2 separate regions of the Homo sapiens genome follow, and region 2 is linked to region 1. Evidence: fine-mapped expression QTL. A gene starts in region 1. The other region holds a variant in brackets. All regions are shown on one strand. Distances are from middle to middle. Region 1 holds the start of STMN1 (stathmin 1). Region 2 holds the start of MTFR1L (mitochondrial fission regulator 1 like).

Region 1 (11,148 bases):
AATAAGATCTGTGCCAGGCACATTGGGAGGGGAGTGAGATACAGCAATGAGAAAGACCCTGCCTTCAGAAAGCTTCCAGTCTCACAGCGCACTTCCAATCTCAGTGCAGTCCAGTCTCTTCCAATGGAAGTGCACTTCCAATCTCATTGCAGCCATGTGAGTCACAGGACTGAGACGGGTGCCACAGTGCAGGCACTAGAGCTGTTCTGAGATCAGCCTGTTGCTAGTCAAATATTTATAGGAGTTATTAATATAGACAGAATTGACAGCCATGTCTTTCTTGGGATTTTGGCTCCTCCCCCTCCTTTTCTCTAATGCCTGAAATTTCTAGGGACAAAGCCTTGCAAATCATTTTTGAATGAGTTGAGATAATGAATTAAAGTGCCACATGGTGAGTGTTGAATTGGTACAACGTGGAAGGCAATTTGGCACCATCCAAATTACAAATGTGCTTGCCTTTTAGCCCTGAAATACCATTTCTAGGAATATGTCTTGCAGATATACTCACACCCATAGGAAATGCCATATGAACTAGGTCATTCATTACAGCATGGTGAGCTATTCTGAATAACTGGGAATAACCTAAAGAGCCACAGATATCCCACTGGTTAACTGCATCTTGGAATATTCATACCATGGACACCAGATCAAAGAAATCCTTGATGTATGAACAGGGAAAAGACCCCTGACGTGGTTTTTGTTTGTTTGTTTAAGAGACAGCGTCTCTGGCCAGGTGTGGTGGCTCACATCTGTAATCCCAGCACTTTGGGAAGTCAAGGCGGGTGGATCACTTGAGGTCAGTAGTTCAAAGCCAGCCTGGCCAACATGGTGAAAACCCATCTCTACTAAAAATACAAAAAATTAGCCAGGCGTGGTGACATGTGCCTGTAATCCCAGTTACTCAGGAGGCTAAGGCAGGAGAATCCCTTGAACCCAGGAGGCGGAGGTTGTAATGAGTTGAGATTGTGCCGCTGCACTCCAGCCTGGGTGACAGAGCGAGATCCTGTCTCCTTCAGCTTGGGTTACAGAGTAAGATTCTGACTCAAAAAACAAAGAGACAGGGTCTCGTTCTGTCACCCAGGCTGGGGAACAGCGGCGTGATCATGGCTCACTGCAGGTGGTCCTCCCACCTTAGCTAGGACTACAGGCCCGTGCCACCATGCCCAGCTAATTTTATTTATTTATTTGTATTTTTTCATTTATTTGTAGAGACAGGTTCTTGCTATGTAGCCCAGGGTGGTCTCAAACTCTAAGCCTCAGGTGATTATTCTGCCCTGGCTTCCCAAAGTGCTGGGATTACAGGTGTGAGCTACCACACCCAGACCCTGACATGTATTGTTAAGTGAAAACTGCTAAGCAAAGAACAGTTACAGGAGGCTATCATGTGTGTAAAAAGAGAGGGGATATGAATGCATACCTACAAGTTTGCTTGTGTACACATGAAGAAACTCCTGGATACACAGGAAACTGATTAACAGAGATTATGGTGGGGGAGTGGTTGGTAGAGAACTTGGAAGATAAGGAGGGCTTCTTATACTTTATTTTTAAACCATGTGAATGTGTTACCTATTTAAAGTGTTACATGAGAGCTTCTGACCAGAGGCTACATTTCCCAGCCTGTAAGAATGGCCACCCTATAGGCTGCAAATCTTTATGAGAAATAAAGCTCTCCTTTCCAAATTTATGAACAGACCAACCAGCCCAAGGAACATCTCACTGATTTTAAATTGGATCTTCTCGGCTTAGCGACTGAAGACTGACACAGCCCGATCGCCTCGGAAGCCCCCTGGGCCATCATGGACGCCGAGCTTCGGGTAACTCTTACAGTGGAGGACAGGAATGTCAGGCCTCTGAGCCCAAGCTAAGCCATCATATCCCCAGTGACCTGCACGTATATATCAAGATGGCCTGAAGCAACTGAAGATCCACAGAAGTGAAAATAGCCTTAACTGATGACATTCCACCATTGTGATTTGTTTCTGCCCCACCTTAACTGATCAATGTACTTTGTAATCTCCCCCACCCTTAAGAAGGTTCTTTATAATGTCACCCACCCTTAAGAAGTTTCTTTGTAATTCTCCCCACCCTTGAGAATGTACTTTGTGAGATCCATCCCCTGCCCCCAAAACATTGCTCTTAACTCTACTGCCTATCCCAAAACCTATAAGAACCAATGATAATCCCACCACCCTTTGCTGACTCTCTTTTCGGACTCAGCCCGCCTGCATCCAGGTGAAATAAACAGCCTTGTTGCTCAAAAAAATAAAAATAAAAATAAAAATAAAAAATAAAGTGTTAAATGAATTGAATTTAACCCCATGGGAAGAGTTAACCCAGTAACTACAATTTCCATCAAAGGGTGAAAGTCTAATAGTCATTCACTCATTCAATAACCTATAGCAGGCCAGGCACCGCGGCTCACGCCTGTAATCCCTGCACTTTGGGAGGCCGAGGCAGGTGGATCACCTGAGGTCAGGAGTTTGAGACCAGCCTGATCAACGTGATGAAACCCCATCTCTACTAAAAATACAAAAAATTAGCTGGGCATGGTGGCGCACACCTGTAATCCCAGCTACTCAGGAGGCTGAGGCGGGAGAATCGCTTGAACCTGGGAGGCGGAGGTTGCAGTGAGCTGAGATTGCACCACTGCACTGCAGCCTGGGCAACAAAAGCAAAACTCCGTCTCAAAAAATAAAAATAAAATAATCTATAGCAATCAGGAAACATCTCTAGCAATGATACCTAACAAGTGCACAGCACTTTAAATGTGCCAGGCATTGTGCTGTTTTCATTTACATTATTTCATTTAATCCTCACCACTCCCAGAGTGCAAGTGTCTAATATCACAGAAGAGACAGAAGATCACAGAAGGATGAGAGAGGTTGTTCTTTTTTTTTTTTTTTGTGAGACGGAGTCTTGCTGTGTCGCCCAGGCTGGAAGGCAGTGGCGTGAACTCGGCTCACTGCAACCTCCACCTCCCAGGTTCATGCCATTCTCCTGCCTCAGCCTCGTGCGTAGCTGGGACTACAGGCGCCCGCCACCATGCCTGGCTAATTTTTTGTATTTTTAGTAGAGACGGGGTTTCATCGTGTTAGCCAGGATGGTCTCGATCTCCTGACCTTGTGATCCGCCTGCCTCAGCCTCCCAAAGTGCTGGGATTAGAGGTGTGAGCCAGCGTGCCCGGCCAAGAGGTTGTTCTTTCCCAAAGTTCTCTGCAAACATTCAGGCGCCATCATCCTGGGCCAGGCCTGAGGATGGGCACTGCACTAGGGATACCAAGACAAAGACAGCACCCTGCCCTCTAGGACCTAATGGTCTAGTGAGGGAGATCGATGTGTAAAACAGCAGACTCATAGACAGGTTTTGAATAGAGAAGGGAGTGTTAGAGCATAGTGCTTGAGGATTAGGAGACAAAGGGAACAGAGAGACCGGGGACAACAAGCAAACCTCTCCCACGACACCCTTTGGCCGAGGACAGGCCTCGAAAGCAGCTGTGGAACTTGGAGGCGCCATGTGGGAGACAAACCCTGCAGCCTCAAGCCCAACAATGAACAAAGGCTGCCGGGCTCTCTGGCAGGAGAGGAGATCTGACAACGGCCTGGCCCGCCGTTTGATCAGTGTAGACATTCCTTCTAGACTTTGAAGCCTGAAGTGCTCTCCTTTAGCTGTCTACACAGATCAAATAAGCTGGATGACTGCCCTATCTCCACTTCGTTGTGTGGCTCCATAGTCACAGCCAGCTCCATAACAATCCAACCAAACCATCTGAGCAGAAGCAAAAATAATTCTTATGGGCAAAGATAGACAGTTCCAAGATGTGAACATTAACTCCTTGCTGCCACTTCAGAAGAGAGTGGATCTTGAAGTTCGTTTTAGGAAGCTTTCGAGAAGGGCGATTCTGCCCCTCTCCAAGGTGAAGTGGCAAAACTGTTGTCTCTCCTTACAGTTGAAAGCCCTTCCTATTCCAAGGCTTATATAGGACACCCACAAAAGCTGACAATAATGAGCTGTGATCTGGCTCTTGGGAAGGCAGCCCCACCCTAAAGAACAAGGATCAGACTGGGTGTGGTGGCTCATGCCTGTAATCCCAGCACTTTGGGAGGCTGAGACAAGAGGATTGCTTGAACCCAGGAGTTCGAGGCCAACCTGGGCAACATAGTGAGACCCTGTCTCAATTTTTTTTAAGTCAAATAATAATAATAATAATAATAATAATAATAATAATAATAATAATAATAAAAGGACAGGAATCCCACCTCAAAAGCACCTTTTTATTCAAAGGCTCATTCTAGGGGAAACTTTAACCCAGCCCTCTCAGTCCTCAAGCAGCTGTGAGGAGCTTGGAACATTGTCACAGACTGGCAGAACCAGGCATCTCCCAACAAACCCAGAAGCCAAGTGGCATTGCTAAAAAAGATTAAAAATGAACATGAGTTCTAACATCTACGTTCCTTGCTATGGTTTCCATGGAAATAGACATCTGCTCTAGGGAGAAAGAAAATGTGGGGGGAAGCAGTGTAAGTGCTTTCAAATTATCAGTGTTTTGAAAGATTTATTTCTTTTTTCTGTCACAACATTAATAGTCAGGAATGTGAGACTTTTGTGTGGCAATTTATTGTACTTAAAAAAATGCATTAAATGAGTGGGACCTTCCTCTGTGAACCTCCAGATCAAATACAAAGACTTCAAGATAAAAAGCCTGTTCAGTGGGTAAGGACCTCTTGGGCTTGGGTTCCTTGCTCATTTGTGTTGCCTGCCTATCTGTCGCTTTCCTGAGGGGTCTCATGCCCATCCTTCTCCAACTTTTCTAATGATGTCTGAGATTCTGTTCAGAAAAATGACAGACGGAAGCACCTAGCCATTTTGAAGCTAAGTTTGGTCTGAGAAGAAGCCTTTCAAGGCTCAGTATCTGAATTATTCCTGGTCCTGCTCACAGGCTAAGTGAAAACCACTTCGATTGGCTTGGGGGGGAGGCCGACCCCACACAAGGGCGATTGTTGGAAAAAATGCCGCAACAAGCATATTTCAGGCAACAGCGCATTGCTAATTGTTTGCTTTGTGTAGTGTGCTGCTGCTTGTATGATCCAGTTTTTATTGTCTTGGGCACCCCTTAGTTGTATTTTATCTCTGGCACATCCCTGGTGACTAACTAGGCATGAGAGTCTTTCTAAATTAGGACTGTTGTTTCAGGAAGGTTGGTCACATTTGTTTCTTGATTTGGGGAGATGCAGCTCATTAATAAAATAAAGATATCTCTTCTGCTTAGTCAAGATCTCAAAGCAGGTGTCTTGGTGTATTGACCACCAACCGAGGACACGGTCTTGGTCAGAGAATGGGAGGAGGCGGGGACCATGTTCATTTCATTTATTTTTTTCCCCTTTTTGTGAGAGAAAGGGCCAGTTATTCTAAGGCACGGTCAGACCAATTTCCTTTGTGCCTTTGCTGAGGTTCTGAGCTATCCAGGTCAGGGAGAACAGTGACCTTGTGGCTCCTTTTTCGATTTTTAAAAAGAACCCAGTGCTGCTCTGGGGAGCACGTGCTCTGAGAACAAAAGCAACACTTAACTGCAATCTGTGTAGTCTAGAACGGCTATTGCTCTTCCTCCCCTATCATCCGCAGAAGGCTTGGAAGAACAGATGGAGTCTGCATTTAAGCTGAGTGGCTTTGTTAGACCAAAGGCGATCAAATTCCAGAGCCCCACGCTTTCCCGCACAGGTCCCTGGTCACCGGCTCGGGAACCTGAGGATGCTGGCAAGAACGCACACAGTGAGGGAAGGGCCACGCCCGCGACCTGTGGGCTGAGTGGATTAGAAATTACGATGATGTCACAATATGGGTGACACGCCGGTGTCGGTGTAGGGTGCCGGGGGCAGGGGGCCCTGCAGGGGCGTGGAGTGGCATTGTGCTGTCACAGGGGCTCGGGCGTCTTAGGCACCCATGTGGGTGGCGCACTAGAAGGGGCACTGCTCTGTCCGAGTGCTGCCCTTGGGGCGAGGCGGGCATGTGGCTCTACAAGGTGGAGTCCAGGCGGCCAAAGTTTGGAAAGGTAGGGAAGGACCCCCCCGCCCTCCGCCTGCTCCGCCCTGCCCTTGTTCTCGAGAATGGGGAGCTGGTTCGGACCTAGTCCGGGGTCCACTGCCACGCCCTCTTCCACGGCGAGACCACCCCCCTAGTCCCAGGCCCACACCTGGGGATGCTCCCCAGGCGCCCTGCAACCCCCGGCATTGTCCTCCTGCCCTCCGGGACAGGACTACACTTCCCGAGGTGCTTCGGGGTCCCGGGGGGCGGCGCTCCACGCGGGTTGTGGGGGGCGGGGGCGGCACGTGCCGCCGCTCTCGGCCAATGCGGAGCCCCGCGCGGAGGTCACGTGCCTCTGTTTGGCGCTTTTGTGCGCGCCCGGGTCTGTTGGTGCTCAGAGTGTGGTCAGGCGGCTCGGACTGAGCAGGTGGGTGCGGGGCTCGGAGGAGGCGGCGGCTGGCTGAGGCCAGCAAGAGGGACGCGGTCGGCGGGAGGGGCTGGGCCGTGGCAGCGACCCCCTGCTGCAGGGCGGCGGGCGGGGCTGCGGGCCTCGGAGGGGTTGGTGGGCGGGGGTCGCTCCGCTTTGTGTGTGGCTCGGGCGGAGCCTCGCCTTTGTCCCCGCTCTCCGGGGGCGCGGCTGTTCGTGGGCAGGGGGCTGGGCGATCACCGGGCGTCCGCTCCGGGGTGCCGTCGAGGAGACAATAGGGGGCGTGGGCCCTCGTTTACCTCCCTCCCTCCCTCCCTTCCCTGCGGGCCCCGCCGGGTTCCCCATTGTCTGAAGGGACGGGGCGGTGCCCCAGGGACCAGCGGCTTTAGGACCAAACTGCGGGCAGCCAGGGCCGCGACCCTCCCTGCGACCGTCCCCTGGCGACCGCAGCTGGTGATTGAGGGGCGGCGCTCCCGGGCCCCACGAGGGTTCTTCTGTCTTCGCGGCCGGACGCGCGGACAGCGTGGGTGGCGGCAGGTTGGGCATGGGGACGGCGGGAGGCGGTGGCGAGCTCACCGCGGGACCACCCGGGGGCCTGTTCCCGGGGCCTGCCCCACCCGCTGAACTGTGAAGGGGGTGGTGGCGGCGGCCTGGAGGTGTTTTTGGCGGGAGTTGGGGGGGGCGTCCGCGCAGGGGGAGTCAGGCAGGGGCGGAGTTACCCGGATTGGACCGTTAGCCCCGCCCACCCCTCCCCTTCCCACGCGCGCGGGCTCCGGGGTGTTGAGTTCGGGGAGATTCGAAAAGGCGCGGGGAGGAAGGGGGCGGGGCCAGGGGCCGGAGCGCAAGGCGTGCTCTGATTGGCCGGGGGCGACCGGTCCTCTTTTCCTCGCCCGGACCAGGGCCACGCCCATCCTGGGTCCGGTGCTGCGTCTAATTCTCTGCTTTTCTTAAATCTTGTCGCTGCCTCTGATTTTAATTCCTAGCTTTTGGGAACCTGTCATCCTACGTTTTTGGTACTAGCTGGCGTCTACAAAAGTCATAATGTTAAAAAGATCAACAAGAGATACAGCATTTTTCATGACATAACGGCAGCAAATATAAGTCAAAATCTAGAGGTTCATAAACATTTTGCTTGCTGTTGGGCAAGGAAGCTTAAACCTGAGGGACAATAGGAGTTCAACATTATTGGTTACTATTAGCTTGGGCGTTTTCTTATCCACCACGTCAGACACAGACAAAGCAGGGGTGGGTATTTCATTTGCACAATGAGTTGTAGGCAGTATTAAGATGGCTCCGGGGGCACTGTTGAGTTGAATCTGGAATATCTTCTTACAGTTTCGGTGAAATGTTAAAGAGTTTATGGGGGAAAAATTCTTCACCCTTGTGACTTTGTCTGATTTTAAAAATCCAAGAGTTTTATGACCGAGAAAGCTCAGTTAACTTGATTTTCTGGAACCAATATCATATTCAGGTCATATTTCCCAATGTTTATTTAGTAGATTTTGATAATTTTTTTCGTGGTTAATTTAGACGTCTTTATTCCACGTATTTTTCTGACGATGTATGTAGATGTGATGTGAGATTTTTTTGGGTTGATGACATATAGAAAGGCAAAGAAAGTGATTGCATGTTTTTGAAAATCATTTTCAGGACTTTCCTTATCCCAGTTGATTGTGCAGAATACACTGCCTGTCGCTTGTCTTCTATTCACCATGGCTTCTTCTGGTAGGTAATCTATTTGGAAAATCTGAAATTGTAATGGGCTTATGATTTTAGATTGAGATGGCTCAGGTCTTCGCCTTTGATTTGGCACTTATGTTTTGGTCTTACCAAAACCTATTTTATGAATAGGAGAAGAATTTAAAAATGATTATCACTTGAATGTGCCGAGAGCTCGTAATTGTTTATTGGACAGTTTGGCTTAGTCTGAAGCAAAATTGTGGAGTTTGCACAAGTCTTTTGTTTATGAAAGCGATTGTCAGATACTGATGTCTCAAAACAGTATTTATTAATCCAAAAATGTTGAGCTTTGTTTTTCTGGGAGATGGTTTTTATTTTTTTTGAGACAGGGTCTCACCTTGTTGCCCAGGCTGGAGTGCAGTGGCTTAATTATAGCTCATTGCAGCCTTGACTTCTGGAGCTCAAGTGGGCTCAAGCGATTCTCCCACCTCAGCCTCCATAGCATCTGGGACTATCGACATGGGCCACCACACCCACCTAATCAAAAAAAATTTTTTTTGTAGAGATGGGCTTTCCCTTTGTTGCCCAGGCTGGTCTCAAACTTCAGGGCTCAAGGGATCTTCCCATGTTGGCCTCCCACGGTGCTGGGATTATAGGCATGAGCCATGGTACCTGGCCTTGGGAAATGGTATTTAGATAATAATATCTTGCCTGCAAATACATCTTCCCCTAGTGTCAGTAGACTGATAGGAATAAAAAGGGGAAAAAAAACACAACTTTCCTCATCAGCCCTAGTTTAATACATTAAATTGATTTGGGTTTTAGAAAATTATAGTACAGTTTATTAGAACAGGAGAATCCTGGTTTTCTGAATTATAAATATAATCAATTCTAGATATCCAGGTGAAAGAACTGGAGAAGCGTGCCTCAGGCCAGGCTTTTGAGCTGATTCTCAGCCCTCGGTCAAAAGAATCTGTTCCAGAATTCCCCCTTTCCCCTCCAAAGAAGAAGGATCTTTCCCTGGAGGAAATTCAGAAGAAATTAGAAGCTGCAGAAGAAAGACGCAAGGTAAACGAAGCAATTCACAGAAAGCAGGATATTAATTTATGTAATGGGCAGATCAATTTTATTTCTATAACAGGAAGAAAACAGAATTGTAGCTACACTGTGATTATTACATATGCCAGTGACTGGAAGGAAATACCAGTCCTCATTTATTGAACTCCTGTTACATGCCCGCTCCTTTGTTTATATTTTTCTCCTTTAATACATGGTGTTGCCTCAAATAATGGAAATTAGAAACAGTTTCAGGAATGTTAAGTCGTTTTTCTGCAGTCATACAACTAGTAAGTGTTGGGGTCAGAATTCAAGCCCTGGTCTATCTTAAACCAAAGCTCATGCTTCTCTCATGCTTCCTCTTTGAAAAGATTTGTTGCCAGATGATTCTTTGGCACTTTGGTTTTGTTTTTTGAGAGCTGTACAATAACATTTTAAATTGCTAGTGTGATTGTGTTGCTCAGCTGGTATCATGGTAGCTTTTCTCTTATCTAAACAATTCTATTATAAAGTAACTATCTTTAAAAGCTAATCAGAAGAATCAATAAATATTAATATGCTAGTTGTAGAAAATTTGGGAAATACAGAAATTTATAAATGGAAATTAAAAGTATTCATTATCCCGCTTCCGAGAAGCAACCAGTGTTAACATTTTGGTGTGTTTCTTTCCATTCAATGTTACTCATTAACAACTGTACATAACTTTTCATTTAACTCCCTTTCTCAACAACCCTGATAGGATTGATTTTAAAGCTGGGGCAAGTGAGGCACAAAAGGTAAGGTAATAACCTTCCCCAGACCAGCATAGTGATTTGTAGTATACACACACACCCGCCCGAAGAGCCTCAGTGCTTACACTAAGGAGTCGTCTTCTATGCAATAGTGTGAGTTCATGGAGTAGGAGGAAGCAATACAACCAAAGGTTGGACAGTGGAAAGCTTTTTAGACATCAACCCTGGCCCTGTAGTCATTAGCCTGTGCTTTACATAGTAACTGGCTAAATATAATGAAACTCCCATCATGACTAGGATTTGGCAGAAGAGAATCAATAGAACCAGTGTCAGATGCTCTGTGGTTATCCTGCAAGTCAGTGGTTCCAATGTGTTTTGAGAACAAGCTGTTCTGTTGAAGGGGTCATACCAAGGTATGGTCTGGTAATTAATGCAGTTTCCTGAGACAAAAGCTAATAAGCCTTTTCCTTGAAACAAATTTTTCTGTCTTAAATAGTAATCTACAGACTTAGTCTTGAATTTCCTATCATTGTTTTATCAGTTATGGTTAAAATTTTTACAATGAGCTAGTTTTCTTTGGGTAGCTTTTGAAGTTAAATAGTGAAATTCTTTACAATAAAAGTGCCACTCGCAAGTACATATTCCTCAAGTCATCCAGATACCATTAAGCAGTAAATCTTACAAGGATTTCCTTAAGGACTAATTGGGTAAGATTTCTGAACAGATAAGCACTTTTCCAAAGTTAAATACAAATACTAGAAAAAGAATATCATTTTCACAGTATTTTATGATAGGGATAATTCAGGTCCTAATTTTGGTGTTATTTAAAGGGACCTTATTTTCTGCCCCTTTTCAATCCCCTTAGTAAATTATTTTTATTGTAATTTTAACTTATGCTGAATACATTTTATTTTTTGAGGCAGAGTCTCTGTCACCCAGGGTGGAGTGCAGTGGCACGATCTCAGTTCACTGCAACCTCCACCTCCCGGGTTCAAGCAATTCTTCTGCCTCAGCCTCCCAAGTAACTTAGACTACAGGCACCCGCCACCACGCCCGGCTAATTTTTGTATTTTTAGTATAGGTAGGATTTCACCATGTTGGCCAGGCTGGTCTTGAACTCCTGACCTCAAATGATCCACCCACCTTGGCCTCCCAAAGTGCTGGGATTACAGGCGTGAGCCACCACACCCAGCCTGAATACATTTTAGAGTGCCTAGCCTATTAAACTTTTTTTTC
Region 2 (8,693 bases), 85 kb after region 1:
CAGGTCAGAGATGTTGGGCAGGGTCTATGGAGAAGCAAAAGTCATCAACATTTACAGATGCCATGATGAGCCAATCAGAAACTGCAGAATACACAGGAGGGGTACCTAATCCGGCACTGGGTGTCAGGAAGGCTTCCTAGAGGGGGCAGAAGAAGGTTCCTGGTCGAAAACATTGAACAGAGGCCAGATGACAGTCAGGCATGGTGGCTCACACCTGTAATCCCAGCATTTGGGAGGCCGAGGCAGGCAGAATGCTTGAGACCAAGAGTTTGAGATCAGCCTGGGCAACATGGCAAAACCCTGCCTCTACCAAAAAATACAAAAATTATCTGGGTATGGTGGTATACGCCTGTAGTCCCAGCTATTCAGGAGACTGAGGTGGGAAGATGGCTTGAACCTGGGAGGCAGAGGTTGCAGTGAGCTGAGATTGCACCACTGTACTCTAGCGTGGACAACAGAGCCACATTCAAAAACAAAAACAGGCAAGACACATGAGAGTCTATGGGATTACAAACAGTTCTGTGTCTTCAGTGGAAAAGGCCTGAGTCACCTTTTAGTAGAGATGGCAACTGTCTAAAACCACTGTGCCCTCTGGTGAAAATACAAGTACAAGGTCATCCACAACCTGTTACAGCAATAGGAAATTTTTCCTGACTAGCTTTTTATAATCCTGTATAGCTAATTGAGATCTACATTGTTACAGCAATGCTGTTTTAAACAAACCTGAAAATTTGAATATATTTAGATTTAAATAAAAATAAATGATTATACAAAAGGAACCATAATAGGATTTCTTAAAATAGCTCCTCAACCTAGAGATGTTGAGTAAAGTGAAAAATTAGGATTCAGTCATGTTGACTGTGATTACAACAAAGTAAAAAACATCCATCTAGAAAAAGAGGACTACACTAAGACATTAATAGTTATTGTATTATTACTATGTAATTATAGGTAATTTATTTTCCTTTTACTTTTCATAATTTTAATATTTTCATATGCTTAAATTTTCAAAATAAATTGGTAAGAGTCCCTTAAATAATATTTAAGGTAATTTAATAATAATAATAAATGCATATTTACACACAAGTAAGATTCAACTGTTTCTGCTACAAATTATTTGGTATGGTAGATGGATCCAGGATTGATCGCTCCTGCATTTAGATAGGAAACCTGGGACTCACAGGAGTTAAGTGATACTCCAAGGTCACACAGAGAAGAACTTCCAGTGACCCAGGAACTAGTGCTAAAATAGGGCATTTGGGGGAAGCCTCCATTTGTTTTCCTGATTAGCCCTGAATGCTCCTTTGCTCTTGGCAATTAAATGAGTAAACAAATATAAAGTACAGCACAGTGCCTGACACATAGTATGTGCTCAGTAAATGTTATCTAGTATTACCAATACTGCTCACATACATTCCTGCTCTGTGAGAGCCTGTGCCCTTGATTGTCTCTGCCCAGCATCTGGCCAAAGAACTGAAGAGGGTATAGCCAAGTGTGGGGACGGCCTCTATGCAGTGAGCCACACTCCCTAGCTGTCTCCCTTTTTTTTTTCTGATGCTTCTGAGGCAAGTTAGGACCAGTTCCTGCCCAGGATCTTTAGACAATTCTGGATAGCTGGCAATCTGAATACTGGGACAGCTTTTCCTGCCCCCTACCCCTGCGACACTTCCAACTCCATTCCTGACCCTAATACCAACCCTGACACCTCTTCTAATTCCAGATCCAGTTCCTACAGACTCTGCTTCTTAGCATCTTTTATACAGATTTGGCTCCTTCATTTCTGTTTCTACCTGGGCCCACATCCTTTCATGCACATATTTCTATCTCCTCTGTGTGGGTAGAAAGCACAAGTATTTCTTTTGTATCCCAGCTCTCCAAATGCACACATCTGAACCATATAGTTTGGGGCTGGTGCTTAACCATTTAGTTCCTAGAGGGAGGCAGCTGGGACTAATAAATGCTACTTAGCTTTCTACCACAGAAGGGGTCTCAAGAGACCTGGGCCAGGTAGGAATCTCTGCTGCTGAGTGGGTGCTAAAGGATCCCTAGACACAGAGGTAAGACCAAAGCACCCCAGTAAAGGATGCCCAGATTGGCCAAAAAGAGAAGGCTGAGGAATTATGGCCTCAGAGAAACACTAAAAATAGTGGAGCTGGGCATGGTGGCTTGTGCCTGTAATCCCAGCTACATAGGAGGCTGAGGCAGGAGGACTGCTTGAGCCCAGGAGTTTAAGACCTAGCCTGGGCAACATAGGGAGACCTCATCTCAAAAAATAATAAAATAAAAATACTGGCTACATGGTCAATTCTTAGGGCTGGTGAAGAAAAGCAGAGTTCAACTCAAAAATCACAATAGTCAGTGTCCCATGTGGGGGACCTGTCAGGTTCCTTGTGGTCACAGGTTTGTATGCACTCAGGAGGACACAGTGACCAGGATATCTTATAAGCATTTAACAAATATTTCATAACAGAATGAAAAGTGACCAGGAAACAACCTACTTGGGCAGTACCAAGGGGTTTGGGGCACAGAAGCAGCACTGTCTGAGCCTCTACTCTCCTGCCCTTCCAACATACTCACCTCAAAGGACGCCCGGGCACACGGCTTCAAGGGTAGGTTGGTCCCAATTCTTCTTACTACACTTCGAGCAGCCCCATGTGGCTTGTTTTGCCAGATTGGGATGGTCTGGAGCAAAGAGACGGAGACAGCTACAACCCCAGAGAATGAATCCAACTACTGTCCTTGTCCTCTCCTCTCTAGGTTTGTGGAGACTGAATTCCACAAACCTAGGGACAGGGCACTCTCTAGGGGCAAGTCAACTCTCAATTATAGTGAGGGCAGGTTCCCCAGTTGCCAGCCTACACCCTGGCCAGCCACCCAAGGGAATACCTGCTGCTGCTAAGGCAGTCAATGTTGGGAGGGTCAGGGAAGGGGAGAGGAAGTAGCTGAGTGTAGAGATTATCCAGGCTTTCCTTCCCGTCCTCTGTACAGAAAGGCAGACATACACTGACTCCTGAAGTGCCCCAGGATCATAGTTGGTTCTTCTTAGGGGGAGGGAGTGAAACGGTGGCCTTGCTCCAATTCCAGGCCTCTGGAGAAAGGAGTGCTCAACTGGAGAGTCTCAGAACCTTTTACAGTACTTCAGCAGGCCCAGCACCCAACCTTCCCCACCATACCCCTGCCCTGGGAATGCCCCTTACCACAGTGGCTTCCATTCCTGACATTTGAACCAGCTCCTGCACTTGAAGGACAAGGCAGCCACTGGGCAGCTCCGGGAGGCGGGAGGCGTGACTCCTTCATATCAGGCCATCTGGAGGAGCACCAGATTTCCCTCTTGTGAAACAACCCCCCACAGTGGGGATTTAATGGTCACCACACAAGCCCCAAAAAACCAGGCCCTGCAGAGCCATGACTTCACAGGGGAGAAAACCAGCCCAAGAGGCTGCCCTCACCCAACACTTAGCTCTAAGTCCAGACTCTTAAAGGTTCTGTTAAAGATCTGCGGCCAGGCGCAGTGGCTCACATCTGTAATCCCAGCACTTTGGGAGGCCGAGGTGGGCGGATCACGAGGTCAGGAGAGCGAGACCATCCTGGCTAACACAGTGAAGCCCTGTCTCTACTAAAAATACAAAAAATTAGCCAGGTGTGGTGGCGGGCACCTGTAGTACCAGCTACTTGGGAGGCTGAGGCAGGAGAATGGCGTGAACCCAGGAGGCAGAGCTTGCAGTGAGCCGAGATCACGCCACTGCACTCCAACCTGGGTGACAGAGCGAGACTCCGTCTCAAAAAAAAAAAAAAAAAAAAAAGATTTGCCTAGTGAGCTTGGCCAACCCAAGAGCCTTCCTGGGCTCTCAGGTTTCTTGAGGCAAAACTTCTAAAGATGCAAATAGAATCCTTGGTAGCTACAAAGCTCATCTAGCCAAATTATAAGTACTATCCAAGCCCAGGATTCATTCTTGAAGATGAGATGTAAAAGCACTGCTGGGCCCTTGCAAAGGGAGAGATCAGAGAAAATAGGAGAACGAACACCAGCTCATGCCAATCTCAGTCTCATGAGCTACAGAGAAAAAGAGCCAAAAAAGTTTATCCTGGCTCAGCCACCTTCTGGCTTTGTAGCTACAGGCAAGTTATTTAACTTTTCTGAATGTTGGTTTTTCCATCTGGAAAAAGGAGACAGGAAAAGCTGCCACTGGAGGCTACCTTAAGGGTCAATGAGTGAAATGGGGTTGAGTGCTTAATGAACTGTTAAAACATGACACAGATGGGTGAGGTGACATCTGACTGCTCTTCACAGCAGTCCTTGCATGGTGAGCAGATGCAATCAGTGTGCTCGTTCATTCACTTGTTCATCAAACACCAACAGTACCCACTTGTGCCAGGCCTTGTGCTGGGCACCGTAGGGGCTATGGAAGGAGTAAGACACAGTCATGCTCTCAAGGAACTCGCTGTCCAGCAGAGTGATAGGACATGAATACATACTTCTAGCAAAGGCTGAGTAGCATTAGGCAGGTGGCCAGATGAGGTCAGAGCTCTGGCCCTAGTGCCCTGTAGTAAGTTGCGAGGGAGTAGGAAATGAAGACAAAACAGCAAGAGCACAGGTCCAGCACAAGAAGGTGAAGGACATGGAAAGAGGAGCAGAGCATGATAAAGCTACAAAAGTAGGGGGCAAGTCATGAGGTCCGGGTCACTGGGGAGCCCTGGACAGGCTCTGAATGGGAGATAGACTAGACTGACAAAGCAGCTCTTTCTGGAGACCTCCTGTGGAGGGTCCCCTCTTCTACCCTTGGGAGACGAGGTGTCATTCACTTCACGATACACATGGGGAAAGGAAGTTGGACAGGGGAAGGCACTTGTCTAAGGTCACTCAGTGGTCATGCCAGTGCAAAGCACCCAAAGCCTGGTCCAGGTCCTGCCACCTCCTGCGTGGGCTCCATCTTCTCGGCTCAGTTCAAGCCTTTATTATCAGAGTCCCTCTGTGTGCCAGGCTCTGTGCTGAATGTCCGTGTCGGCCACAAATTGCACTAACGGTGCTTACTGCCACTTCCTCTCCGACCTTACCTCCAAAGACCCAGCCGGGCCTAACCCTCACACACAGCCAGAGGAATCCTTCCCAAACACAGTTAATCACATCGCTCATCCGTTTAAAACTGGCTTACTAGAGCCAACACAGGATAAAATCCACAATCAGTCCCAAACCCATCTTTCTCTGCCGTCTCTAGACCACATTCACTGAGCACCAAGGCCTGCACGCTTCGCAGCCAGCCCTCCTGCTCTCCCCCTTGCCC[T/C]CCAGCCACACTGGCCCTCAACCCCCAACACTGGGCCCACCTCTGAGCCCTGCATCAAACACCAGCACCCCCTTCGCCGAGCTCATTCTTCATCATTCCTCAGAGCTCAGCTTAAGCATCACCTTCCTTCCCTGCGACAGGGTCAGGTCCTTTCCTGTGCGCTCCGCAGCACCCTGCCTGTCCCTCGGAGTCCTCGCGAGAGGAACTAGATAACTGTGATCCCCGCGCACAGCACGGTGTCTGCCTAGGACACAGTGAGCGCTTCAACGCGCTGAACTAAACGAATGAAGGGGAACACCAACTCAGCTGTCACCCCCGCCCCCAAGTGTCACTGGCTAGAAGATCTTCCCCCGGTTCGCCGGCAGCACCGGTGGGTCTTGTCACCTCTGCGCCCCGCAGCCCTCCGGAGGCTGCAGTTGCTGTCTGCTGACAGGCGTCCCCTCAGGAGAACGGGAGCTCCTCCAGCGCAGGGCCCTGCTCAGCACCCCTGGTCCCGGGGGCCCCCACGGAGGCCGCCGCGCTCAGTGAAACTTTGCCGCGCGCAGCAGTGGCCGGAGACCCGCGCGGACCCTCTCCCCGCGGGGACCCGCCAGGGCGAGTCGCCCCTCCCCCGCGGCAGACGACCCGACCTGGGCCAAGGTCGGCCAAGTGCTCGCCGCCTGCCCAGCGGCCCTTGGACCCACAGGACCCGGACCCGAGTGCGCGGAAGCCTCCGAGCCGCGGCCAGGTCTCAGAATGCGCGGCGGGGCAGCCCGGCCCGTCAAGCAGCGAAGCCGAAACTAGAAGCCTGAGGTCTGGCTTGGTCACTGTTTGCTGGGGAACTCCGACGAGCAACTACCCTTCGGGGACTCAGTTTCCCCCGGGCCAAGTGAGACGGACAGCTGCGGCTCCCGCGAGAACTCGCGCGGGAACAGGAGCTGCGGGCTCCGCACAGCGCCCGGCACGTAGACCCAGTCTACTAACGGGCTGGAAGGTCGCGCTCCCGCCTCCGCGCCTCCCTAGAACCTTTCTCACCTCAAGCTCGGGCTCCCGGACTCTCTCACCTCACGGCCCCTCCTTCCACCTTGGGCCGCCCAGCCTCAACCGCCCTCACTTCCGCTGACCCGCCCCCCGGAAGCGATCCTCCGCAGCTGCGCACCGAGGCGCACCTCCGCGCACCCTCAGGAGGCGGGTCCAGCTCGGTGGCGAGGGGAGCGCGGCCCCCGAGTGGGCGAGGCGCTGGCGGCTGTAGGCTCCGATACCGCGGAGCACACTCCCCTCCATCGAGACCGTGCCCCCGCGGGGTCTGTGTCCCCGGGAGGAGTTGGCTGCGTTTGGAGATCCCTCGGCCTGGTATTCGTCGCGTCTCCCTGCTTGTTGCTCTCCACGTTTAGCCCCATCCGACTTCTGGAAGCCCAGGGGTGTGTCGCTCGACCCCTAAAATATGCTCCTACCCCTAGGGCAAACTTCAGAATCCTCACCCTGGCCCCCTTCCCAGTTCTTGGTTCCCAGGCAGGTCCCTTTGCAAAGCCTCTCTCCAGCAAGAATGCGCAGAATGGGCCTCTTTCTCCTCTTGACTCCTGCCCTCCAGCACTTTGCAGCTTTCTTCTATTTTAGCCTCTCTCTCTCTCTCTCACACACACACACACACACACACACACACACACACACACACACGGTATATTCAATGAGTTTGCTTATTAGATGGGTACTTGATGTACAAGACTCCAGAGGCTCTGTGGGAAGAGCCACATTCCTTCCAGGCTCACTAACCCACTCCCTCTTTGTGCTCCAGCCCTCACTGTCTTGGTCTGTGGCATGCAGTTCCTGGGTCACATTTCCTTCTCTGCCTTCAGCACAGCCTCGGGCTGTGCCTGGCTCCCAGGCTGGAGTTCCTTGGTTCCAAAGCCTGCAGTCCCCTCTGCCAGAGACAGAGCTGGTTTCATGGGTGAACAGCCCATGCAGTCACAACGGGCCGCATGCTCAGAATCCTGTACTTGGTTTAGTACTTTGCTGTTGCCGTCTTGAAATGATTTTCTAATAGGGGTTCTTGTGTTTTCATTTTGCACGGGGCTGTGCAAATTATGTGACTGGTCCTGGCTAGAGACCTCAGAGGTCGTCCACCCTGATCTCCACCATATCTCAAACGCTGAAGATTGACTTCCAGGTCTGGCCCTCTTCCCAGGATGGCACATTGTGTTTTAATCATTACCTTTCCCTCCTGTGCGATGGCGGATCATGCAAGTCCACGCTGGCTGTCTGTCCTGGGTGTAGATGCTGATTTGGTGTCCCACTCAGATCCCCTTGCAGGAAGAACGGAGCTCCCTACCTGGGAATTTCCTTCACCTCCCAAGCCAATGACTGATAAAAGGTCCAAAAGGCCAGTTCAGCTCTGCAGTGTGGTTTATGCCCCACAGCTCTTCCACTGTGGGTCAGGCCAAGGCTGGGCTGAGACTGTTCCTGCTCAGCATTTTTCCTTTCCCTCTTCTGCTTCCTTCCTTCTTTTACTGGTTTTTCTGGAAGTACACTCCCCCCCAGCCCCACCAAACAAACAAAACAAACAAACAAAAAAACACTTCATGCCTGTCTCAGGCTCTGCTTTTAAGACAATGATTTTAACTCCCAGATCTCTCTCAACAGAGAGCACCAGATTCTCAAAACAGTAAGTCCTACCACTTGTTCTATCGTAAAACTTATTTTGGGCAAGTCACTCAAGCCTTCGATAGGTAAGATAGTACCTGAAAGCATTCCAGCTCAACTCTGCCCCAAGAGGGAGCCACCCCATGGAAGGACGGAGCTGAGCAACATGCCACTCAAAGGAAAAGCACTTAGAACCACTCTAGTTAGTCTTCTCTAATTTTATTACAGGGCATGTTGGGGACAGGGGAGGGAAGTGTTAGAGGAGTGACAGGGCAGCCCGGGGCCCTCTCCCACCCTGAGCCTCGAGGCCTGGTGGGGGACATGAACTGCAGAGGCATCAGATAAGGCCTCAGAAAGCCCAGGCCATCATTTTCCATGGGACCAGGCTGGCTCAATGTGGAACTGGCCCTCCCAGAGCAGCAGGAGAAGGGCTCGCATGGGCTGCCCCCGTCACCTGTGCCTGACAGGATGGGGGGGGAGGCAGAGAGAGAGCATCAGACGCCCTCCCTCCCCATAAGGGGCATGGGGGATGGGGACACTTCCTCCCAGGACACAGGGAGCCTGGCTGAGCTGGCTGGCTCATGCCCCATCTGGTCTGGAGGTCAGAGGGGAGTGAGACACTCTGGTTTGAAAGGCCTTCCTTTCCACTTTGGGGAAAACAGGCAGGGAGAGAGGTGAGGGTGCCATGCCAAAAAACACCCCCAAATCCAGATGCAGACTTTGGAGCCACATGTGGGTTTGAATCTCAACTCTACCTGAGTGACCCTGGGCAAGTCACTTCACTTCCCTGAG

What was found. PIP is the estimated chance that this variant, and not a neighbour inherited with it, causes the effect.
Region 2: its variant is fine-mapped to the expression of STMN1 in whole blood (TOPMed, PIP above 0.99).

What each region holds. Positions count from the first base shown.
Region 1 is chr1:25,901,686-25,912,833 of GRCh38, reverse strand. It overlaps STMN1 (stathmin 1), which reads left to right and starts at 6,415. Exons shown (of 5, transcript NM_005563.4): 1 at 6,415-6,445; 2 at 8,096-8,170; 3 at 9,021-9,193. The coding sequence starts at 8,158. It overlaps MIR3917 (microRNA 3917), which reads left to right and starts at 6,380; the gene lies at 6,380-6,472. LOC105376885 (a long non-coding RNA gene) reads right to left here and starts at 6,284. Exons shown (of 2, transcript XR_947102.1): 1 at 6,188-6,284; 2 at 4,591-5,798. RefSeq lists silencers at 6,173-6,482, 6,503-6,592, 6,983-7,402, 7,182-7,476.
Region 2 is chr1:25,817,633-25,826,325 of GRCh38, reverse strand. It overlaps SELENON (selenoprotein N), which reads right to left. Exons shown (of 12, transcript NM_206926.2): 12 at 8,105-8,693. It overlaps MTFR1L (mitochondrial fission regulator 1 like), which reads right to left and starts at 6,372. Exons shown (of 7, transcript NM_001099625.2): 1 at 6,297-6,372; 2 at 3,198-3,307; 3 at 2,578-2,682; 4 at 1-24. The coding sequence starts at 3,221. It overlaps LOC646471 (a long non-coding RNA gene), which reads left to right and starts at 2,720. Exons shown (of 1, transcript NR_024498.1): 1 at 2,720-6,372. RefSeq lists enhancers at 5,577-5,666, 6,047-6,186, 7,829-8,329 and silencers at 5,777-5,946, 6,397-6,586. The variant T/C (reference allele first, on the strand shown) is at 5,283.